Linked DNA regions of Homo sapiens. The protein of the gene in region 4 interacts with the protein of the main gene of each other region in a pairwise test. Each region holds a gene or a part of one and is shown on either strand. Other genes may lie near its edges.

Evidence for each region.
Region 1: the proteins of BNIP3L (region 4) and GNB5 interact in a two-hybrid assay, tested with the Homo sapiens proteins (one large-scale study listed by BioGRID and IntAct).
Region 2: the proteins of BNIP3L (region 4) and GBP2 interact in a two-hybrid assay, tested with the Homo sapiens proteins (one large-scale study listed by BioGRID and IntAct).
Region 3: the proteins of BNIP3L (region 4) and DOK5 interact in a two-hybrid assay, tested with the Homo sapiens proteins (one large-scale study listed by BioGRID and IntAct).
Region 5: the proteins of BNIP3L (region 4) and TMEM132D interact in a two-hybrid assay, tested with the Homo sapiens proteins (one large-scale study listed by BioGRID).
Region 6: the proteins of BNIP3L (region 4) and CAMK1D interact in a two-hybrid assay, tested with the Homo sapiens proteins (one large-scale study listed by BioGRID and IntAct).
Region 7: the proteins of BNIP3L (region 4) and RHEB interact in a two-hybrid assay, tested with the Homo sapiens proteins (one study listed by BioGRID).

Annotation. Positions count from the first base shown.
Region 1 is NC_000015.10:52,184,893-52,188,392, forward strand, and holds part of GNB5 (guanine nucleotide-binding protein subunit beta-5), read right to left. Parts: intron 1-3,500. UniProt on the Homo sapiens protein: Enhances GTPase-activating protein (GAP) activity of regulator of G protein signaling (RGS) proteins, such as RGS7 and RGS9, hence involved in the termination of the signaling initiated by the G protein coupled receptors (GPCRs) by accelerating the GTP hydrolysis on the G-alpha subunits, thereby promoting their inactivation.
Region 2 is NC_000001.11:89,119,615-89,123,114, reverse strand, and holds part of GBP2 (guanylate-binding protein 2), read left to right. Parts: exon of another isoform or gene 1-1,131; 5' UTR 1,132-1,148; coding exon 1,149-1,338; exon of another isoform or gene 1,339-1,844; coding exon 1,845-1,972; exon of another isoform or gene 1,973-2,826; coding exon 2,827-2,936; exon of another isoform or gene 2,937-3,500.
Region 3 is NC_000020.11:54,594,093-54,597,592, reverse strand, and holds part of DOK5 (docking protein 5), read right to left. Parts: intron 1-3,500.
Region 4 is NC_000008.11:26,393,054-26,396,553, forward strand, and holds part of BNIP3L (BCL2/adenovirus E1B 19 kDa protein-interacting protein 3-like), read left to right. Parts: intron 1-2,176; coding exon 2,177-2,249; intron 2,250-3,500.
Region 5 is NC_000012.12:129,698,026-129,701,525, forward strand, and holds part of TMEM132D (transmembrane protein 132D precursor), read right to left. Parts: intron 2,674-3,500; coding exon 1,785-2,673; intron 1-1,784. UniProt on the Homo sapiens protein: Regulate neuronals morphology via inhibition of the WAVE regulatory complex (WCR), a complex that controls F-actin cytoskeletal dynamics.
Region 6 is NC_000010.11:12,821,547-12,825,046, reverse strand, and holds part of CAMK1D (calcium/calmodulin-dependent protein kinase type 1D), read right to left. Parts: intron 583-3,500; coding exon 495-582; intron 1-494. UniProt on the Homo sapiens protein: Calcium/calmodulin-dependent protein kinase that operates in the calcium-triggered CaMKK-CaMK1 signaling cascade and, upon calcium influx, activates CREB-dependent gene transcription, regulates calcium-mediated granulocyte function and respiratory burst and promotes basal dendritic growth of hippocampal neurons.
Region 7 is NC_000007.14:151,488,896-151,492,395, forward strand, and holds part of RHEB (GTP-binding protein Rheb), read right to left. Parts: intron 2,120-3,500; coding exon 2,048-2,119; intron 1-2,047. UniProt on the Homo sapiens protein: Small GTPase that acts as an allosteric activator of the canonical mTORC1 complex, an evolutionarily conserved central nutrient sensor that stimulates anabolic reactions and macromolecule biosynthesis to promote cellular biomass generation and growth.

The DNA.
Region 1 (3,500 bases), on a different chromosome or scaffold from region 4:
GACAATAGGTTTTCTGAACTTAACACGTTTAACCAGTTTTTTGGCAGCTGGCAGACCTGCGTCAGGCAGGATTGATCCTTGCAGCACAATATCAATTCTGTGGGGTTTCACAATGGAAAACGTTTTTGTAATGGATGCTATAACTTAAAACTTTTAAAAACATTCCTCCCCTCAGGGTGAACTTTTAAAGATAAGGGTCAGCAAATGATGGAGCCTGACCCCAACCAAAGCCAGGGGCCTGAGTAAGTGTGGTGTGGGTTCCGTGCAAGGCAAGCACTCACTTATTAAACATTTGACAGCCAAAGACCCAGGGTCCCTGCCTGTTCACAAGGAAGTCAACAGACAGGCCCAGGCCGCTGCAGGGAGGCAGCACAAGCATCTAGTGGTTACAGGGACAGGCTCTGGCTGCCTGGTCCCGGCCCACCACTGAGGCTAGTTAGCTGACCTCTCTGAAGCTTGGTTTTGCTAATCTGTCAAGTGGAGATCTTAAAATCTACCCTTCTGGGGTTGTCAAGAGAATGATAAGAGTCAGTGCGTAAAGCACTTAGCTCAAGGTCGGTAATACAGGGAGTGTGCCAGCGAGGTCATGCTGCCCTGAGTGGCAGCAATAGCGGGAACAGTGGCTGCCTTGGGAAGGAGGGACATGGGTAGGGGCAGGGTGAGGCTGGGGATGCCAAAGAAAGCATAAGAGGAGCCTATGGCAACGGTTCAGACAAGACGCGAGGAAGTCATGGACTAAAGGTGAGAAAGTAACTTTTATCTGAGGAATGCAAGCCCTTTTAAATTATCAGGCCCAGAGAATCATGAAAATGAGACAGCAATAACGTTCTAGTCCCCACTTTGAGCTGTGTATTCATCTTTTTATTATTATTATTATTATTATTATTATTATTATTATTATTATTTGGGACAGTATCTCTCTGTCTCCCAGGCTGGAGTGCAGTGGCACAATCTTGGCTCACTGCAACCTCGTTCTCCTGGGTTTAAGCGATTTTCCTGCCTCAGCCTCCCAAGTAGTTGGGATTACAGGCATAAGACACCATGCCAGGCTAATTTTTGTATTTTTAGTAGAGGCAGGGTTTCACCATGTTGGCCAGGCTGGTCTCAAACTCCTGACCTCAAGTTATCCACCCACCTCGGCCTCCCGAAGTGCTGGGATTACAGACATGAGCCACCACACCTGGCCTCATCTCTTGAAACTGCTTGCCATTGGCACAAGTAGCTAAAAAATAACCTAATAATGCCACACTGGACACTATAACCCACACCCTGTAGTGTAACAATGTATAACCAGTCGCTAATCAATGTTATTTCTGTAAACTAATGAGAATTCCTAACAACTTTGTATCAGCCCACTCCCGGTCCCTCTTTTTTGCCTTTTTAAAAAAACTGCTTGTAACAAAGGCCAAACAGAGATAATGTCCAAGGTTACTTGGGTCTGGGCCTTCCAGGAATCTGTCCTCACTTTGGCTCAAGTAAACTCCTTAAGTCTTGGTTTGTGCTACAGCCTCTTCCTTTTAGGCCCACAAAGCAATGTAGTGGGATGGACTTGGACCATGCTTAGGAAAGAGAGAAGGAGCTGGATTTGGCATGTGGAGTTGAGGAGAGGGAGATGTGGGTGCTGTGGCCTAGATTTCTTTGGGAGACCGAGGGGTTATGTTGCCATTGCTGGAGATGAGGACAAAGCGGTTAAGGGGGAAGGGAGCAGCCAGTGTGGCCCTGTCAATTTGGTAGGTGTTCTAGAGTGAGCCCCGTCAAGATTCAAAGAAATGAACCCCTGAACATAAAGATAATTGGGGGCGCTGGTCTGAACATTTCAACAGAGTCAAATCTGAGAGGGATGCATTTATGGGGGAGGTGACAGTTGGGGACATTTCTGATGAGGAACGTCTGCCATGTGGAGCCCACCCTGGGGCTGGAGAGATAATGGGGGCTCATGAGTTGGGCTGAGCTCTTACAGCAAAGGGGCAGTCAGCACAGTTCGAGACCTCTGGGCAACAAAGGTGTACAGGGCATCCCTTAGGGACAACAGCTCGCAAGGAAACCAGCTACCAACTGCCACAGAGTGCCCAGCCCTCGCCTCTCCCTGGGAGGGAGGCAGGACATCTGTGTTACAGCTGAGGAAAAGCAGGGGGATTAAACAAGTTCAAGGTCAGCGGCAGAGCTGAGTCTGTAAGTAGCATGAATACACACTTTGGAACCCTATTTCCAAGCTAGCATGGTCAAGCTGCATGGTTTTGTCACAAAAGGTGAGTTAACAAAAAAGGGCCTGCCCTCCAGAGCCTGGCCCATGGTGGGGCTTGGTAACTGTTGCATCCCACTCCCCAGCCCTGTAAAGGCAGCCAGTAACAAGGTTGGGCTGAACACTCCCAGTAATAGCATTAGGACGGTGAGCCACAGGCTGTTAAGCAAGGGAGCAGTGTCATCCACGTGGATTATTCCAGCATTTGTGCTTCCAGAAGTAGGTCAGAGAGAGAGAGAGAAGGGACGGCAGGAAAACAAACTAGGTTAAGAGATTGCTATGTTCTGGAGAAGAGGAAATGAGCTGCGGACAGAGGAGCAGCTATGGGAATGGAAGGCGAGAGGAACCTATGGCACCAAGTGGAGGAGGAATAGAAGGATGGCTGGGAGGCACGGGAGAGAAAGACAAGTTGAAAAGATAGCCGATATTCCATATCTAGATAGAGGCAATGTTTTTCTTCTCAAACTAAATTTTGAATTTTTTCAAATTATAAAAGATGCTGATAATGTTCATTATAAATAACTGGAAACAGGGCCAGGTGTGGTGGCTCATGCCTGTAATCCCAGCACTTTGGGAGGCCAAGGCGGGTGGATCACTTGAGGCCAGGAATTTGAGACCAGCCTGGCCAACATAAGGAAACCTCATCTCTACTAAAAATACAAAAATTAGCCTGGCGTTGTGGTGCGCACCTGTAATCCCAGCTACTCGGGAGGCTGAGGCAGGAGAATTACTTGAAGCCGGGAAGCAGATGTTGCAGTAAGCTGAGATCATGCCACTGCACTCCAGCCTGGGTGACAGAGTGAGACTCCATCTCAAAGAAAATTAAAAATTAAAAATAAATAAATAAATAAGTGGAAACAGAAGGACACAAAAAGGGGAAAGTAAATCGCCCACATGCCCTACACCAACAACTGACCTGTTGGCATTTTATGTTTTCCTCTAGTATCTTTATAAGTATATATGTGTGTACTTTTTAACAAATTGGAATTATATGCCATATACTACTTTATATAATAGCATTTTCATCTTCACGTCATTGCATATTACTGGAAAACACCATTTTTTAACGGAGACTCCAATTTTTGAGTCCTATGGGCCTTAAGTCGTATCACATAGCTAGCATTTTAGACCTCACTGGTTAAACATGGGCAAGCTACAAACTAAATTTAAAGCATTTTTAAACTGTAAATATTATACATATGCATTGTAGAAAGTTTGGGGGAAAAAAAGATATAAGGAAGAAGATAATCACCTATAA
Region 2 (3,500 bases), on a different chromosome or scaffold from region 4:
ATGGAAGCACGTCCATAGTACCTGGGCTACAGCTTGAAGGAGCTCTCAGTGAACTAATCTGGGACGAGTTGAGCAATGAGATAAATAGTGATAGTAAAGTGTTACCCATATGATAAATCTACACTGATCTACTATAGATCTACACTGATACAACTAAATGATTAAATAAGTAAATAAAATAAATAGAGGAGAAAGGGCAGTTCTTGCTCACATTAGAACTCTAATAAATGTAGAAGGAATGAAAATAGAAAATTACTTTTAGTCAAACATCACAGTAAGTTATAAGCAAGAATTATCAACAGATGCTAAAAATAGTGACTGAAAAAATTATGGAAGTATGATGAATCTTTATTTGCATAGTCTTCAAACTGTCTCTTCAAATGGTACTTTTTAGTGACAAAATGGTACATAACACTTTGTGGTAGAGAAACCTGGCAGAGAACACCTTAACCAAGTGATCAAAGTTAAGGTCACAGCACCAGAAAAAGTCATGTCAACATCATGAATCCCTTAATACAAGACACTGAAAATGGCAGAACATCACTTTGGTGACATTTGCAAAAAAAAATGTATAACTTCAATCTAATAATAAGGAAACATCAAAAAACCCAAATTGAGGGATATTCTACAAAATCATAGCCAGTCAACTTCTAAAATGTCAAAGACATGAAAGACAAGGAAAGAATAAGGAACTATCAAAGATGCAAGGAAAATACAGAAACATAATGACTAAATGCAATGAGGAATCCTGGATTGGGTCATGGAGCAGAAGGACATTAGTGGGAAACTGGTGAAATGTGAATAAGGAGTGTAAATTAGTTATCACTCTACCAATGTTAAAATCCTTGTTCTATGGTTATGGAAAATTTTAACTTTAGGGGAAATGATATATGGGAACTTTCCATACCCATTGTACATCTTTTCTGTAAGTGTATTTCAAAATAAAGTTATTTTTAAAGAAAGCCAGTGACCCAATTTGTAAGACAGCCTTAAAGAGAAACCAGGCTTTAAAAAACGTATATGAAAAAATGTTCAAGCATAGAAAACAAAAATTTAACCCATATTGTAAAGTTCAGCATAGCTAACTACCTAAAAACTGCTTTCCATTTCATCTTTTTCCTTGCACACAAGGGAACAACACCCTGGACATGGCTCCAGAGATCAACTTGCCGGGCCCAATGAGCCTCATTGATAACACTAAAGGGCAGCTGGTGGTGAATCCAGAAGCTCTGAAGATCCTATCTGCAATTACGCAGCCTGTGGTGGTGGTGGCGATTGTGGGCCTCTATCGCACAGGCAAATCCTACCTGATGAACAAGCTGGCTGGGAAGAAAAACGGTGAGTGACACCAGCAAAGCTCTAAGCCCCTTCTGTCCGTACACACGGCGAACATCCAGCTTAGGGATGTGAGCATAGAAAGAGATGAGAATGAATGTTGAAAGCTAACTTTCAGTCCATTAATGGGCTCTTTACATTGACTTTGGAGGATTACAGTCAACTGACTCTTCCCACTTTACTTTTATTTTATACTAAGGGTATAAATGTGCCTTTCTGGAAGGAACACAATGTTAATAAAGAAAATTAACTTCTATAATAATGACTTATAAAACATTTATTAAAATGTTCATGTAGTGACAGCAAGCTTTCAATGAACTTTAAGAAAAATATGAATGTTTCAGTGTGTATTAAATATCTAATTTTCCTGTTTCCAGGATTGTAATTAAGATTTATGCCAGTTGTATTTTCTTTTATCTCTTTTAACTTCAATTATGTTAACTTTTATCTCAATTTCCAGAAACACCTACTAAGTAATTTCTTTTCCCTTTTATCCTCTCCTTCTACAGGCTTCTCTCTAGGCTCCACAGTGAAGTCTCACACCAAGGGAATCTGGATGTGGTGTGTGCCTCATCCCAAGAAGCCAGAACACACCCTAGTTCTGCTCGACACTGAGGGCCTGGGAGATATAGAGAAGGTAAAAAAAATAAGTATTTTAAAAATTTCACTTAGGTAGATTAAAATCTACATAAACCAGGTCAGATCGATAACCATCTTTGCACAATCACTCCTACTCCTTGATTTAGGGCTCTAGTTAATTATATTAATATATTATTTCTTAAAATTTGTGTGGTATAAGCATTCAGAGTACACAATAAGTTCAATTGATTAATTATGGGTAAACCTATGAAATAATGGCTAATGATGTTTTCAGTTATTTCTCTTTCATATTATAGTAAAATGTTTTGGTGAGGCTGCTGAAGGTGCTTATAAACTTCAGTAGACGTTTTACAAACATGTCTGACTTTTTACAGTGGGATCCCACAAAGGTAGTAAAAATGTTCACATCCACACCAGCACCAGTAGAAAGAGAAGCAAAGTGTAAAATCTAATGATAACATCTTTGCTCATTAAGGATAATATATTACTACTGTTATAAATCTTAGACATAGAAAGCTTTTATTAAAGGAGCTTATTTTAACTACTGTGTAAAAAATATCTTACTATGATGTGCCATGGAAATGGAATAGGGTCATAAACTAAGTTTAGGGTACCAGTTTGAATTTTAGTAGCTGATCAAAATAGCTTCTCCTACCAAGTGCTCATGTGTTTCCTGCTGACATATATTTATATATAACACCTTAAATTATACATCATAAATATTATAAATTTGTTCTACAGGTAGAAAAAAATACTGCATAAGGAAGTGAGTTACCTAAGTTTTCAGAACTAATGAGAGACAGAGTTGGAGTTCAGTCAGTCTTCAGCTATCTGAATTGATTGTACATTCTGCTAGTCATTCTTCTTTGTGGCTTCTACAATGACTTACAGGGTGACAATGAGAATGACTCCTGGATCTTTGCCTTGGCCATCCTCCTGAGCAGCACCTTCGTGTACAATAGCATGGGAACCATCAACCAGCAGGCCATGGACCAACTTCAGTATCCTTTTTTGTGGTCCAGAACAGCAGTAAACCTAGAAAATAACAGCTTCATTTTTTCACCAAGTACAGAGGCAGACAGACAGGTACTGAAGAATTCATAAGTCCTCTCTTTAATAAATCTCATTATGCTGAACATCTCATTCTATCTCAATCTCCATCTGAACTTCAAGTCTTCCCAGTTACATGTCTCGTTAGATACTCAGCCACCCAAGACTCTGTATATCCTCTATCTGACTTAATCTCCTATGCCTGTCCAAACCTTCAATGTCCTCTAGAACTCATGTTCTCACTTCTGCAACTCTCTATATTCTTATCATCTGCTCTAAGTGTTGCCTTCTAAATGATACCTAGCTATACACTATAGATACTATTTCTCCTACAGACCTCTCCAGTGGTCTTATGTGATGACTATTTTTAATCCCATACCTTGCATATCATAAGTGTAAGAGATGAGTTAGGTATCCTCCTTGCTCCATATTAGAGTTCTGGACACTTTCTCATTCCTTTACCATTAAAAAGAGAATCTTCTTTAATATATATGCCCTCAGACTACACCACTATT
Region 3 (3,500 bases), on a different chromosome or scaffold from region 4:
TTGCCATTGCCCAGGTTTCATTTTAAGAGGGAAATAACTGTATCCCCTAGTTTGTATGATAATGAGTAGCTCAAATGAGGTAATGAGCCTCTTAGTACAGAGGCTTTCATATAGTAAGGGCTCAGTAAATGGTAGTGATGATTTTCAATGGCTCATACACCTGCTAGAGTAGGGTTTCTCAACCACATGATTAGACCTGATAATCCTTTGTTGTCAAGGACTATTCTGTGCCTGTAGCAGCATCTCTGGCCCTTTTATGCACTAGATGCCAGTAACACCCCCTGCCCAGGTTGTGACAATCAAAAATGTCTCCAGACATTATCAAATGTCCCTTAGGAGCAAAATCACCTCTAGCTAAGAACCACTGCTCTGGAAATCGGCACTATTGTGAGTGCAAATGTCAATTACAGTCAAATAGCCTCTTGACCTTATTTGTTTTGAGCAATTATTAAATGCTATATTGTACATATTTTGTTAGTTTTTAAAAGCCTCACCTCCACTCCTCTTCTGATAGCAACAGTACCCTCTTCCTGCCTTCAGTGAACCAACCTCATTGCATTTGTACCCTGTGAGCTTTGTGTAAAGTGCAGTGCTTGACACATAGTATATATAATGACAGCAGAGAGTAGTAATATATCTCTCTTTTACTGAGATAGTGTGGGGAGATCTCAAAGCTTCTGAAAGTCACCATATGGAGCTAGAATGAAGCTATTTTAGAAGAAACAGAACTGTCACATAAAACCTGGGATTATCATTTGGACACTGAGCCAAGCCAAGCCTGAAGCCATCTTTACTCCTCAGACTTTGAGTTTATGGAAGTCAATGAGTTTCTTTTCAGTACTAGTTTGGGTGGATACAACTGCCTACTACATTCAGGCACTATTCCAGGTGTCTTTACATGTGCCTTTATTTAATCTTCATAGCAATCTTTTGAGATAAGTAATATATGTGTTCCCAATTTACAGGTGGCAATGAAAAAAAGCTCGGTGAGTTAAGTGACATATCCACGTTCCCACAGCCAGTATGTGATAGAACTGTAATTTTACTTCATTTCCTCCAACTTCCAGTTCAGTCTGTTACACATGCCCCACTGTCAGCTTTGGTGGGGTGAAACGGAGCCACTGAGCAGGAATAACACTCAGTTCTAGTTCTAAGAGAGAGGCTGAACATGAGCAGAACTTTGTCCAAGAAAGATTCCCTGTGTTCTAGAGGATATTGTTAAGTTTTTGCAGATGCATGTTGGATATGTGAAAACTACTTGCTTAGACAGACAACTCCTGCTCACTTCTCGATGTGAGAGAAGGGGAAAATTATACTGGTTGATATAAAACTGCTTTGTTTCAACACATCCAAAAATAGCCAAGGAAAAAACTTATCTTCACTAATAAAGCAAGGCAGACATGAAACCTTCACGCTTGGTGTGGAACACGAATGATCTTATTATCCTGAGCATCTTGATGGTAAGTATAAAAATTTATCTTTATTTGAGTTTCAAGCAAAATATAAAATAGTAATTTTACCTTGCATTTAACACTATCCTGCAAGCTTATGTTCTGCTCCAAAAGTAATCATAATAGAATACCAAAGATACTATTTAGGAGAAGCCCAGCATCCTTCCAGGTCATCTACATGCATTTCTGCCTTTACCTACAACAAACCTGCAAGAAAGTTATTACTCTGATCAACTTACAAGGAAAGTTAAGAACTTTGTCCAAGGTTAGCAGCTAGCAAAAAATAGAGATTACTCAGGGTCTCTCTAAATTCTGAATCAGTACTTTGTATACTACACCAAGCTGTTTGAGAAGTAAGATGCTAAGCATACAACTCCCACACTTTCCTTTCTGACCATTCAATCTCAAGTTTGCACCAGCCCTGCAAAACATGACCAATGCATAAGAAATAATGCTATTCAAAATCAATAAATATTCTATGTCCCTACGATATTGGAGATATAACATTGAGTGGCCTGGGTTGTGAATATTATAATCATCTAACCAGTGGAGTTCTTGGATGAAATAAGCAAATGGATGGACCATAAAGGGGTCATCAAAGTCATGGGATAAAACACTTATATCTTCCAAGTCAGCATGTTGGTAAAGACCATTGAAATAGTTCTCAACTTTGTCACCCATATATCTTTTCATCCACCATTGTTTCACTTGAACTGGTTCAATATCTCCCACATCCATACCTATCTCCTCTATCCTACCGTGCACAATGTGATCAAAGTGACCTTTATAAACTTTTTTTTTTTAAATGGAGTCTCGCTGTGTCACCCAGGCTGGAGTGCAGTGGCAGGATCTCAGCTCACTGCAAGCTCCGCCTCCCGGGTTCACGCATTCTCCTGCCTCAGCCTCCCGAGTAGCTGGGACCACAGGTGCCCACTACCACGCCCGGCTAATTTTTTGTATTTTTAGTAGAGATGGGGTTTCACCGTGTTAGCCAGGATGGTCTCGATCTCCTGACCTCGTGATCTGCCCGCCTTGGCCTCCCAAAGTGCTGGGATTACAGGCATGAGCCACCACGCCCAGCCCTTTATAAACTATTAACACAATTACATCACATACACACACACCCCATATACACACATCTCATACACACACAGAGACTCAAACATACCAGCCTCCAAGTATCTATGGTTTCCTACAGCACTTAGGAGAAATATCGAGGTCTTTTAAGTAATCACCTAAATCCTTAGCAGTTCCGTTAGATTTCAATATGAATAAATTAAACGTTTGCAGGATATGTACAGTGTTCATTTTATACCTGGAAAATTAATAAGATAACATGTTTTCAAGTTTAAAATAGATATGAGATACTAATAAAGTTTACTAAGGTTTTGATCCTCAAACATTACCATAAAAAGCTATACTTTTTTTCTACTACTATTTCCTGTAAATGGTAAATAAAAAAAGATTTTAAAATATTAATAATTGAATAAGTGCTGCCCAAAACAGATCCAAAGAGTCTTGATCAATGCAGAATTCTCTTACACATCAATATGAAATATGAATGGAGATGATATGAGAGGTACAGTCATAGAAAAGTCTATTTATAAAACATTTTCAATACTTAGATTTCACTGGTTATCGTTAATGCATAAATAATTTCTGAGACCCAAAGGGAAAAATATACCAACCTTACCAAAAAAAATTATTCATTTTCTATAGGGATTTTCTTTTGTCATTGTTGTTTTCTTTTGAGACAAGGTCCACTCTGTCGCCCCAGGCTGGAGTGTATTGGCAAGATCATAGCTCACTGTAGCCTCGACCTCCCAGGCTCAAGTGATCCTCCCACCTCAGTCTCTGGAGTAGCTGAGACCACAGGTGTGTGCCACTATGCCTGGCTAATTTTTTTTTCATTTAATTTGCTTTTATTTTTTGTACAATATACCCAATGATGAATAGGTATTCTTATTTTCTTTTTTAAAAAACTTTTGTTTTAAGTTCATGGGTACCTGTGCAGGATGTACAGGTTTGTTACATAGGTAAATTTGTGTC
Region 4 (3,500 bases):
TCCAGGCCCTAGATTAGTGGTCATCTTTCAGAGAATGGCTAGAACTCGAGTCTTCTGGGATAGCCTACTAACACGCTTTACCATTGAGGAGTGTCTTCAAAACTCACATCATCTGAATTGCCATGCGTCTCTATATGTGAAAAGTAATTGGAAAGTGTTTCTTGTAGGGGGAAATGTTTTAGGGTTGTTGGGTATCAGTCCTAGAGCTGATTTATGTATATTTTCAACTTAAAAATTATTCCATAGAAATATTTGTGTTGCCGCAGGGGTTGTTAGCTGGGAACCCCAGTGTGTTCTGCTTTGCCTTTCACCCTGTCACAGGGGTTTTCACCTTGACGGCACACTAGATTCACCCAGAAGCTTTTAAAAATGGCAGCACATGGACTGCATCTCAAGAACTTCTCATTTTGGTTGACAGGGGCAGGGTAGAGACGTCACAATATTTTAAAAGCTCCCCAGCCGATTCTAATATGTGCCATGGGTGAAGCTCTAATGCATTCCAAATTGTTAGGAGGAGTAAACAGTTTAGAGAAGAGGTTGGTACCAGTGTGAAGAAGCATATAGAAGCAGAGCAATGCTTCCATAGGATTCTTGACTTTGTCACCCTGACTGCCTTGACCTGGTCACGGCTATGTAAGGCTGACCCTTAACTTGATGTGTAGCTGTGAACCCAACAGTTATGAGCACAAAGATAGTAAACTGAGGCCAGTAGGAGTGCCCAGTTCGGGTTGACTCCTGTGCTAGTTCAAGACAAAAATTTCCTAAATATATATGACGTTGGTTTGATACAGAACCAGCTTTTCTGTTTTCCTGTCCCCATTTAAAAATCTCCTATGTCAATTATACTAGTCTAAAAGACTCCTAGGCCTAATCTGTCTGATAAATTTCTGACGATCTTATTTCTGAGTCAGTCTCACCAACGTCTCTATACATTAATTAACATTATATACATACTCTTGATAACTTTAATAGTTAATATCTATTCTTTTCAGCAAGTTAAGCCCCAAATATTTTTTATTTCTATTTTAGATTTTGGGGGAGGGTTTGTGTATGTAGTGAAGGATCCCCAGTGACTTTCAGTTTTTATACAAGAAATCATTAATAAAGCTAAGAAATTAACTTAGCACATTCTGTTCATCTCTTGTATCAAGTGCAGTTTGTGATCATGTTGTTTTTGTCTAAAAACTTATTTGTAAATTTTTACAGTTCTAAGAATGTATTTTGTGCAATCATAAAGGTTTTATATTAATATATAAGTTATATAATTCACTCTGAAATATCTCAAAGCAAATATTTCTGAAATAAGTAAAATAGTGGTTCTCAAAGTTTTTGGTCATTACATACCTTTACATTCTTAAAAATCATTAGGGACCCCAAAAAACTTGTTTGTGGGTTTATATATTTTGATATTTACTATATTAGAAATTAAAACTGAGAAAATATATATTCATTCAAAAATAATACATTTTAACATAAGTAGCATTTTTTAGTGAAAATACCTATTTTCTATAAACCCTCCAAGTTAATAAGAATAGTGGCATTGTTTTACACATTTACAAATCTCTAATACCAAGCTTAATAGAAGACAGCTGGTTCTCATCTGTGTTTGCATTCTAACTGTTGTGCTATCACACATCATGTAGCCTTTGGAAAATTCCACTATACACATGGGAGAATGAGAATGAAAAAGGCAAATAAATCCTACTAGTATTGAGAAAGGAACTGTAACCTCAAAGACCCTCTGAAAGCGTCTTTGAGAACTACCTTATGCACTTTGAGAACTACTGGTGAATTATTTAATGATGAGGGAACTTTGAGAAAAAGAACTCTGAAGTTCCTGAATTTGAAGATTATTTTACCTTTAGTGGACAAAAGAGTAAATATAAGAGAATGTGACAGTTTGTGTCTGTAGATAGTATTTCCTTTGCAAATTTATCATTTTGAAGGATTTCATTACTACTGAAAAAGTGCAGAACATTTTGGGAGTAAGAATGCTCAATTTCATTTAGCCTTTTAATATCACATAAATTTTTCTTGTATAGGGTTATGATATATTCTCTGATTTGCTTTTTCAAAGCCATACTGCTGTAACTTTTAATTTTCTAATTTCTAGTAGAGACTAAGTCATTTGACAAAGTGAGAATTAAAACTAATAGCTGAATTCCTTCTCTTCTAGCCCTTCGCCACAAGAAGATGGGCAGATCATGTTTGATGTGGAAATGCACACCAGCAGGGACCATAGCTCTCAGGTGTGTCGGGGGGATTCTGATTTACAGTAAACAATTAAGAAAGATGTAAATTCTCTAAGTATATTTTGCTAAAATAAATGTGAAGACTTTTAGGAATAGTTTGAAGCTATTATTGAGTTTCTGATTTTGGAATTTATTTAGGATGATATAGTTCTTGTCGCACTCCTTTACAACTAAGGATTTTGGGCCCTGTCACTCTAAACGAATTGGAAAATTCTTGTCCATAATAAATCATGCCAATACTCCAGGCTAGTTTCTTGAGTGTATAAGTAGAAAAAGACTGAGATAGATGCTTTAAGACCACAGAATAGGGAGGAGCCAAGATGGCTGAATAGGAACAGCTCCGGTCTACAGCTCCCAGCATGAGCGACGCAGAAGACGGGTGATTTCTGCATTTCCATCTGAGGTACCGGGTTCATCTCACTAGGGAGTGCCAGACAGTGGGCGCAGGCCAGTGGGTGCGCGCACCGTGCGCGAGCCGAAGCAGGGCGAGGCATTGCCTCACCTGGGAAGCGCAAGGGGTCAGGGAGTTCCCTTTCCGAGTCAAAGAAAGGGGTGACGGACGCACCTGGAAAATCGGGTCACTCCCACCCGAATATTGTGCTTTTCAGACCGGCTTAAAAAACGGCGCACCACGAGACTATATCCCACACCTGGCTCGGAGGGTCCTATGCCCACGGAATCTCGCTGATTGCTAGCACAGCAGTCTGAGATCAAACTGCAAGGCGGCAGCGAGGCTGGGGGAGGGGCGCCCGCCATTGCCCAGGCTTGCTTAGGTAAACAGAGCAGCCGGGAAGCTCGAACTGGGTGGAGCCCACCACAGCTCAAGGAGGCCTGCCTGCCTCTGTAGGCTCCACCTCTGGGGGCAGGGCACAGACAAACAAAAAGACAGCAGTAACCTCTGCAGACTTAAATGTCCCTGTCTGACAGCTTTGAAGAGAGCAGTGGTTCTCCCAGCACGCAGCTGGAGATCTGAGAACGGGCAGACTGCCTCCTCAAGTGGGTCCCTGACCCCTGACCCCCGAGCAGCCTAACTGGGAGGCACCCCCCAGCAGGGGCACACTGACACCTCACACGGCAGGGTATTCCAACAGACCTGCAGCTGAGGGTCCTGTCTGTTAGAAGGAAAACTAACAAACAGAAAGGACATCCACACCGAAAACCCATCTGTACATCACCATCATCAAAGACCAAAAGTAGATAAAACCACAAAGATGGGGAAAAAACAGAACAGAAAAACTGGAAACTCTA
Region 5 (3,500 bases), on a different chromosome or scaffold from region 4:
AAATGGCAGACGGTATGAAACGGTGTAAGATCAAAGCTCCCCTATTCAAACTTTTTGTTTCCACCACCAAAATATTTCTCTACGTAAGCAGCCATCCTCACAAAGAATACTATGTAAGACTGTTGAACCCAGAAAAGTAAAACACAAAGCTAGCAGACCTCATTGAGGACCTGTGGCCAGCTGGATCTAGATCCGATTTCCAGAAGGACGGAAGGGAACGCTAATGAAGGCTTGGCCAGCGCAGATGTGTTCCTGTACCCTAAATCCCTGCGGCTATTCCGCGAATGGCACGTCCAGCCAGGCCAAAGGTTTTTACCTTCCAGGACTTAGCCAAGTTCAGTCATTAGATGCATGTCCATTAGGTTCTGTTTCTTTAGTTAAAATAGGCATTTCTAATACTAGGTCACAATCAAATAAACTTAAATGTGCAAGGTAGAATCAAAACGGTGATTTATTTTCTTAAACTCATCCACCCTTTAAACATAAAGGAAAAAAGGGGAGGGGAGAGGGGAAGGGAGGGGAGGGGAGGGGAGAAGGGAGGGGAGAAGGGAGGGGAGAGGGGAGGGGGGAGGGGAGGGAGGGGAGGGGAGACGGCATGGAGGGGAGGGGAGAGGGGAGGGGAGGGGGAGGGGGAGGGGAGGGGAGGGGGAGGAGATGGGGAGGGGAGGGGGAGGAGAAAGGGGAGGAAAGGGGAGGGGAGAGGGGAGAAGGGAGGGGAGGGGGAAGAGGAGAGGGGAGGGAGAAAGAGAGAGGGAGAAAGAGAGGGAGAAAGAAAAGAATAGAAAAAAGAAAAGAAGAAAAGAAAAGCTAGAAAAAGCAGCCATAAATCCCATATGAAGGGGGATAGAGAGCTGGTCATCATTGGATGAAGTTTATAAGCCCACATATGAAACATGTCTTACATACAGTTACACTCCTCATTTCAGGAGTCATAACACACATTTTATTACATTGCACATCAGGTCAAATTGTTGAGTTATGTAGCAGTGCTAGGACATTTTTAATAACCCAAAAACACTTCTACTAAACAGCTGTTGTAATCAAACTTGCCTGTGTTGAAAATAAAACTAAAACTATATAATGAAAATACAAACAAGCCTAGGCAAGTAGCTTCTCTCATACGTTATATTCCACAGTGAAAACCAGCCTATATTTATTCTAAAGTACACAGAGCTTATTTTCAATGTCTTCTCTTTGGTATATTCTTATATAAGAAACTCAACAAATTCTACTGTATATTCTTCACACGTTATGCTCATTTATTTTTTTGAACACTAAGTTCTATTTCCAGGGAGAAACAAAATGGTAACTTTGAGGTTGGTACCATATTATACTTAGAACTTACATATCTGGAATAGATTTTGAGTTGGCAAAACCGTGTTCCCTGTCCTTTCTGACAACTGTTGCCATTTCATTTGCAGTCTCATTTCAGCTGTGAGGCATTTAACTCTCCCAATTTTGAAAAGCCTTCTTGGATAATTTTAGCATTCCCAAAACTTGCTGATAATACCCTAAGCTAAGGGAAAAGGCGTACCATCAGCAGCCCCCCGGCTGCCCTATCAATGGCTTGGAAAATCTATTAAGACGAATATTCTCACAACCCAATTGCCAACCCGGAACGATCAGACTGGTCTCTGTATTCCACGGTGCAGATGGAGTTTGTAAGAACGGGAAGGCCGGCTCTACTTCGGTGAGCGATAACACAGCTTTTCTGGTCAAACAGCTTCTGGAAAACACCACCTGATCGACGGGCGGGTACAGACAGACATTGGGAAACGACTTACCTCAACGTGAAGCGATCTTCAGTGGAATTTCTGGAGATGGAAACAGGAAAAGTCAGCACGTCTCCTTTCCTCACGGTCTTTGGTATATAGTGGATGGCCACGCTGTTGTCCAGACGCAGTTCTCTCAGGGAGGGTTTCCTGTGTGTCTGATAAAGGAAGATGCTCCCGATCCTCTGCAAGGGGGGCCCGGACTCATCGATGTCACTGTGGCCTGTCCGGATCCCATTGCTTCTCCTCGCGTCTTCCCTGACGCAGTCCCCTCTCTCACCCCCTGGGTGCACGGTGTAGTAGAGCTCCACGGGGGTCCCCTCCGGCTGGTCCACGGACTTCCTCCTCCCGGCAACCACCGTGGGGGGGCTGAACCAGCTGGACAGGAGCTCCAGCTCGGCCACGCACAGCCCCAGGTCCCCCTGCAGCCGGCAGCTGCCCCGCACCTCTCGGGTCTCTCGGAAAGCAAAGACCCTCAGGCACGGCAGCTTCTCCCCGGCGCTGCGGTCGTCCCAGTCTCTGCCCATGATGTGGAACAGAACCTGCACTTTGGGCCGGCTCAGGTAGACTTTGTCCCGCAGGATGTGGGCTTTTAGTTTCCAGTTAAGAGAAAATTTGTTGGTGAATCCAAATGGGTTGGAAGGTAGCATTAAATCCTGGGGCACCACTTGCTCGATGGAGAAAGGCCCGTAGCTGGCATTGAGGACAGGCAGCCTCCTGGATTTGTAAATCAGAAATGACTCCACCCGGGACTGCAGGCTGGAGTTCCTCATGATATCCTGGTTGGCCTCCTTCAGGAAGAAGGAGACGTCCGCGTTGTTGATGTGGTAGGTCACGGGGAGGTAGGTGGGCAGCAAGGAAAACCTCTGGATGCTCTCAAGGATCCCTCGACCTTCCGTCACTGTGGGGAGGGAATCGCAGTGCAGGCGTTAGTAATGCTAAGGTCCTGTTACCAGCATTTCAGACATCTGCGTGCCCCCTTCATAACAGAGGACCCTGTCTTCGCGCCAATTATGCAATTCCTTATCCAAACCTCTTAATCCAATCTACTCGCTTCATATTATTTGTTTCAGAAGAAATAAATGCCACCAACCTAAGTAGAAAACCAGTATCATTTAACCTATAAAAAAGTTGAGCATGCAAATAAATACAATTCAAATACAGTTTTAAAATTTCCACTCGTGATAATGGTGTTTTTATGGGGTTATGGTAAAGACTTGCTCTTTTTTTGATCAAAGGAGAGATTAGCAAGTGTTAGAAAGCTGTCACAGACAAGCTACCATCGACAGAGAGGCACCGTCCCATTGACTCAACACAGACTGAGATTGGAAACAGGAATGACTTCCTCAACACATGGATTGATGCCACGTCCACATTCCACCTGATACATATTCCTTTGTGTTCCACTCATATGCACGTTCTGCATATACGCACATGTCCAATGGGAAATGCTAACAGACTTGGGGCAAAAATAGACGCAGATGCACAATCATAAATCACATGGACAGTGGACACCCGCCCCCAGTTGGAGTTAAGGGGAGAGATGCAGAGAAAATACCTTGGAAGGATATATTGGGAGGGGCCCTCTAGAAATAGATGAGATGAGGTGACCACGACACCAATGTGTCAGGGCCGGGCGTACAAAGCAATGCTCCAAGTCATCTATGAAACACTGGACCCTGAACCTAAGAAGCACGGGAAGGGCAGCACCTCGCTTCCATGCCAGCC
Region 6 (3,500 bases), on a different chromosome or scaffold from region 4:
GGCAAAATAGCTAGCTCTGAATTGCCATTGCTGATTGGAACACGGAGGGGAGGTCAGGTAATCAAGAGATTAGGAAGTCAGGTAATCAACAGATGATCACAAAACCTCCATGGTTTAAATCTGTCAAACTTTTATCAGGAAACATTGATGAGTACAACTCAGATTTCCTGTTTTTTCCCCCTCCATATCGCTTTAATAAAAGTCAGCTATTCAAAGTTCTAGCAAGGTGAAGAAAGACAAGGGTGATGTTGGTTAAGAAACAGCAGATGAGGAAGAGCTGGCACTATTGCTGTCTTTGATCACAGAGGGGAAGTGTTGAATTGCACACTCCATCCCTCTTACACCATAATATTCCCTCTGAGTCTTTATTACTTGCAGTTAAAATTAGCAAAATTATTCAGGTGAGGTTCTGGGGATTTCAGAAATGCTCAGATTGGAGGGCCAGTGTCACGAGGGGGTTAATCCACGGGGAATTTCATATACTCCACACTTACTCTCCATTTGCTCTTGGCAAAGTTTTTCCGGATCTGGGCGCTGACGGACTCGTGGATGTTTTTGTTGAGGGCTGTGTCACCAGCGATCCTGAAACAGAGGCAAAGGTGCTGCTCTGAAGTGCTTCTTCTGGGCCCTGACACTGCGTCCCATAAAGGGGAGTCTTACCTAGCCTCAGGAGAGCCGAGGCTCAGTCGTGGACAGGGTGGCTGGCCGCTGCCCTTCCAGGCTGCTGATGTCATCACCTGGCCATTCCCTAAACCCACCCATTCTAACCCCTCACCACAAAGTCCTATTCCAGCTTCTACACTCCGCACCCTCCCCAGACCCGCCAGCGCCCTCCTGGTTGACTACTCCCCGGCTCTCATTTTTTCCTTCTTTGACCCCAATTCCTGCAACATCAGAATCCACAGTGACAATGTCTCCCATCCTTCTCCCTCCCCCTCATCCCCTCTGCCTCCACACAAGCTTTTGAGCCACCATGCGCCACCTCCAAGGTCTCACACTTGTTCCCCAACTGGTCTCAGCACCAGACCCCTTCCCGGCCTTGCTTCCCAGCTTCCTCAGACCCGAGGTCCCTCCTCTCTGTCTTCCCCAGGGGCGCTGCTCCCAGGGCACCACTCACACCCGTGGGCTCTCAGCTTCATCTCAGCAGAGCTGAGCCTGCCACATTCTGCTTGGCAACACCTGTGAGCCCATGCCCCCCACCCACTCTATGCTGGGTGACAGGATTCCCAGCTCCACTCAACCCCGCCTGGTACATCCTCCACCCTTGCATCTCCTTGAAATTCTTAGAACTTCAAGGACGGCGTCCACCCTGCATTCACCTGAGCCCTTGGCAGCCCCGGGTAAGCTTTAACTCTAGCTGATTCCTGAGCCTGCCATGAGCAGGGAAGAACTTAGGTTTGCTCCTGGCCTTCTCTCCTGACAGTACCCTCCATCCCACTCTTTCCTCCCTCTGCTGTCTCTTTCTTGGGTCTTACAGCCTCCTCCTCTCTCTCGGCTCACAATATCCAGGCTGAGAATTACCTGGCAGTCTCCCAGCTCTTCCTTCCCTCATGCATGCCCTTCTCGATCACAGCCTCCTCCTCTCCCTACAGGCATCCACTTGGCCTTTTCCCCCTGGGCCTCTGTGCTCTGCTCCCAGTCTTTCCTGGGCTTTGATCCTTCCCTCTTCCCTTCCCTCTAGCACCAAACTATTCAATTCTGGGTTACTATCTGATGGCTAAGAAAGAGTTTCATGAATCTTGCAGAAGTTAAGGGGATCAGAGTCAGAAACCAACGTTATGGGCTGGAAGGTAACTGGTAAGGGAGAAAACCTCTCACCCCTGAGACACTGACTGCCCTGGACATTAAACAGCCCAGACACGGCAACCATCACTTCCAACTACTTCAGGAGATGAAAGGAACACGGCTCAGGCATATTCAGACAAGAGAGAATACCAGCCAGACTTTCTTTCCCATCAGGACTGCAAACAGGGTGGACAGAGTCGATATAAAATTGGGGCCAGGCTGGCCTAAGTTTAGAATCCAGGCTGATGTTCCCAGCTCAAAACAACTCTCCCCCACCACCTTTTCCCAGCAGGGCTGCAAACACACAGCCAAGGGGACGTGCAGGAAATATCTCAAGCAAACTAGGTTTTCATTTCCAACAACTGTCAACTGCCTTCCTTCCCAGACACATATTCCTGAAACAGAAATAGAGTATTTGAATGGGCAACTACATCTGAAACAAGAGTAACAAGACAAAGAGGATGAGAGAATGAGAGACATCTTTATTAAGCTTTTTTCCCCGGAGAGCCCAAGGGAGTGATTCCTCCTGGACCCTGTTGAAAAGCTACATCCTCAGAAAAGGATGCCAGTCCAAGCTTGCAGCGGCCAGCTCTTTCTTAGAAACGACAAGGCCAAAGTGGTGGGGAGTCTGGAATTCCTCAGGCTGAGCACTGCTGCAGGGCAGAGCCAGGCTCCAAAGCAAACAGGCTGGTGCTGGGGTCGGGGAGACTCTGGGCCTCGGGGTCCACCTGCTTGTCCGCAGTGTGGTCTCAGACCCCACGGCCCGTGGCCTGCTGCCTATACTCTGTGTCCCATGCTATATCTGTGGGTTCACATGGGCCCAGATGTAAGAAAACAGAAGCTTCTAATTATTTTAGGAATGCTTCATGCTCATTTCCCACAGTCCTGGGCTGTGCAGCAGTGGGGAGTCCAGCTGGGCAGAAGGTGGCCCCCAGGCTCTGTGTTACACGGTCTTCCTGCAGCAGTGCAGCCATGTCAGGCCACAATAGTGCACCGTGGCCCTCCCCAAGTACAAGCCGCAATGACAACGGTGACCCATGCTCATGATAAGCTAGGAAACTTGCAATAGTAACATCCGGACAGCGCTGATGCTCAGTGTCACTAACTTCAGCACGCTTCGCCAACAAAACCAGAGGCATGGAGTCTAAACATTGGAAGGGATCCTAGTGGTCAATGCTTCTGATACAGCAGGATTGCTTTATCAATCCATATACACACACTTAGGCAACGCTATGGGTGAACACATTTCATTCATGTCTCCCTTGCTTTTCTGTTTTCTTTTTTTTTTGAGACAGAGTCTTGCTCTGTCGCCCAGGCTGGAGGGCAGTGGTGCGATCTCGACTCACTGCAACCTCCGCCTTTGGGTTCAAGTGATTCTCCTGCCTCAGCCTCTTGAGTAGCTGGGATTACAGGCATGCACCACCATGCCAGGCTCATTTTTGTGTTTTTAATAGAGATGGGGTTTCACCATATTGGCCAGGCTGGTCTTGAACTCCTGACCTCCAGCGATCAGCCTGCCTTGGCCTCCCAAAGTGCTGGGATTACAGGCATGAGCCACCACACCCGGCCAGCTTTCTGGTTTTAATACCTACAAGAACAATGCAGATAGCATTTACGTAATCACACCTTTTACAGCCTGTCTCACTATCCACCACTCACGGACCACAGCCTAGTCTCCCCTGCCTTTCGTGGTTTTGTGTTTTGTGTGTGGTCTC
Region 7 (3,500 bases), on a different chromosome or scaffold from region 4:
ATGTATATATAGCTCCATGATACACAACTCCATGACTTTCCTTCCAACTCAGTTTTTACTTTTGAGACCACATCTTGCTCTGCTGCCCAGGCTGGAGTACAGTGACATGATTACAGATCACTGCAGCCTCAAACTCCTGGGTTCAAGTGATCCGCCTGTCTCAGCTGAGACTACAGGCACACACCATCACGCCCAGCTAATTCCAGCTCAGTATGAAATGGCATGAGGATACAGCCACAATATCCACTTTTAGAGGCAGAGCTTACGAAGAAAACAATCTTCTATTGTTCTGTTAATACAATTCCAAAATGAACCTTATTATTTCAAGGATCTAAAATCCTAAATTGCTTTGTATAGCAAATATTAAGGTCCAAGATGATGATTTTCTTATGTTCTTATTCCAGTGGACAGAAAACCGAGCTTGTTCATCCAGCACTCACATTAATCTGCTCCTCACACTTGCTTACTATTATATAATGACCAGCTAGACAAATCATAGGATGTAATCAGGACTCCTCCCTGTAGATACCCAGAGGTTACTTTCAAATATAACATCTTGAAAGGTTACTTTCAAAAATATTCCTGGAGTTAGTTTATCAACCAACAGGTTTCCTTCTCTGCTACCAGCACACTGGAACACAAAGGACAGCCAAATATTTTAAGCGAGGGGTGAGCAAACTTTTTCTGTAAAGGGCCAGACAGTACCAGTAAATATTTTAGGCTTTGTAGGCCACCTGGTCTCTGCTCTTACTATTCAACAACTCTGCCATTGTACAGCATGTAAAGGACAACATGTAAAGGAACAAGCATGGCTGTGTATCAATAAAACTTTATAGAGGTTAACATTTGAATTTCATATAATTTTCACATGCCAGACATTATTCTTCTTTGGACTTTTATATATTATGCTTAAATGGAAAAACCTTTCTTAGCTCTTGGTCTGTATAAAGACAGGAAATGGGCCTTGCTGGCCTGCAGGCTGTCGTTTGCCAAGCTCTTTACTGTCAGCCAAAGCATTCAAGTGATTCTCTTGCAAGCCTCCGGCCGGTGAAATATGCTTCGTGTCTAATATGCCAATCAGGTGTTGATGAATCCCATGTTTAAATCTACATGTTCCTGGTGACAAATCCTAGATAAGTCCTGGTCTCAAGAATCTGAGAAACCTAGTTCCAGGGCCCACCTGGGGTTCTAAGCCTGAAAAGACCAGCTTCCCTGCTTCAGATTATCCTTGGCGATCCCTAGAATCAAGATCTGTCTCAAAGCTGGGCACAGTGTTGTATGCCTGTAGTTCCAGCCACCTGGGAGGCTGAGGAAAGAGGATCACTTGAGTCCAGGATATTGAGTCCAGCCTGGGTAACACTGTGAGACTCATGTCTCTTTAAAAAATAAAATAAAATAAATAAATAGTCTCATGGTCCTAGAATCCATCAGGAATATTCTGAAACCATGGATTAAAATTGAACAAAGTAAAGGTCATGGCTGGTTCTGTCTTCCCTGCTTTTTTCTGCACATGGCCTAAAATGTCAACAGGCTTTTTGAGCCAACTTCTTTTTAATGCTGCAACTGCTCTATCCAATCCCAGAATAGTTCATTTCTCTTTCAAATCTTTAGGGCTGGAAAGAAGGGTATAGAGAAATGTGGGTGGGAGTACGGCTTCTGTAAGAATAAGGAACAGGGATCTCGAGTGTTTTTCATTCTTTCAAGCTTGGAATCCCTGGAAACTGCAATGGCTGGGAGAAAGGGGGTGTGGGGGAGAAGACTGTGCTCTCCATTCCTGTTTTGGAGCAGATTCTGGAATTTGAAGATTCCAGTAATGGGCCAGACTCCTACTGACTTGAATTAATAATTTCTAGATGGCAGGGGATGCAGACATGGAAGGAAAAATCTTTCAGGGTAAAGTAGGTAAATCTTTTGCAAGTTTTCTTTGACCCCAATTGGGAGACACACAGAATTTACCTCCTGCACTCAAAGCCTCCATGAATACACAATGGCTATTTTACACAAAAGAAGGCTTCTCAGTTTTTAAGTACTTGAAAACAATACTTACTGTTTTCTATGGTTGGATCGTAGGAGTCCACAAATTGGCCTTCAACAAATTGAATCGTCAATGAGGATTTCCCTATAAAAGAGAACAAGAGCTTAGTGTGTGTTGGCATATGAAGGTAAAAATTTTTAATTTTGCTGTTTTATTAAAAAACCATTAATAGATGAAGACACTGAAGGTATCAGGGTCAGAAAACATTCATTTAATTAGCATGTGAGCAATTTCAAAAAATGAAATAAATTTCATTAATTTGCTTTATATGAGGATATTATGCAATTAAGCTATTACAAAGTAAACATGTCTGTGACATTAACAAATATTACTGACCAACAAGCACATCAGATATTCTGTTAAAGATAATCTAAAAGGTTTAAAGTAAGCTAATTTCCTCTAGTATTCTTGGAATCTTGCTATTTAATTTTAATATGAAAATTAAAATGATTAGTTTCGTTGTATTCATTCATATATGACGGTTAGAAGTGTTACCAAGTACAGCTTTTAAAAAGAGTAATCCGGCCAGGCACCATGGCTCACGCCTGTAATCCCAGCACTTTGGGAGGCTGAGGCAGACGGATCACCTGAGGTCAGGAGTTTGAGACCAGCCTGGCCAACATGGCGAAATCCCGTCTCTACTAAAATTAACAAAAATTAGCTGGGTGTGGTGGCGGGCACCTGTAATCCCAGCTACTTGGGAGGCTGAGATAATAGAATTGCTTGCCCCCAGGAGGCAGAGGCTGCAGTGGGCCAAGATTGCACCACTGCACTCAAGCCTGGGCGACAGAGCAAGACCCTGTGTCAAAAAAAAAAAAAGGGTAATCTGAAAATATGTAACATAAGTCTTTATCTTAAAAACTCCTTTGAAGCTAGAAATCCTATGTCATTCAGTATGAAAGGCCTAGCAGTATCTAGAAATTAAGAAATGTTATGGATTTCACAAAATCGCCAATAATTGAACTTGTATGTTAATAAATCAACAACTAGAGCCTTAGCTTCTCACTCTTCTGCTACCTAAAATGTCTACTGGAGGACTTTAGAACAGGGTACATGCCCTGTGAAGAAATCGCATGAGATGCATAGTTCAGATGACTTTATCACCAGGAATGAGGAAGTGGTCTCTCCCTAATTTCACCTCCAAACCCTTCCTTCTCTCTTGCATCCTTGGAGCATTATTACACACATGCTGTATATGCCTGGCATACTTAACTCCATCACAACAGGACGTGCAGTGAGAGTGAAGGAGAGGCATGGTAACACCCATCTTACACTACTGGGTTTAATTTATGCTTGTTTCTCCTCCAAACTATGGATAGGTATAGTTGCACAATGTTTTCACACCAAAGGCATTCCTTAAAATTTAAATTATTAAAAAGTTGGCTTAAAAGTAGTGGTTGCTGGCCGGGTGTGGTGGCTCATGCTTGTAATTCCAGCACTTTGGGAGGCTGAAGCGGGTGGATCA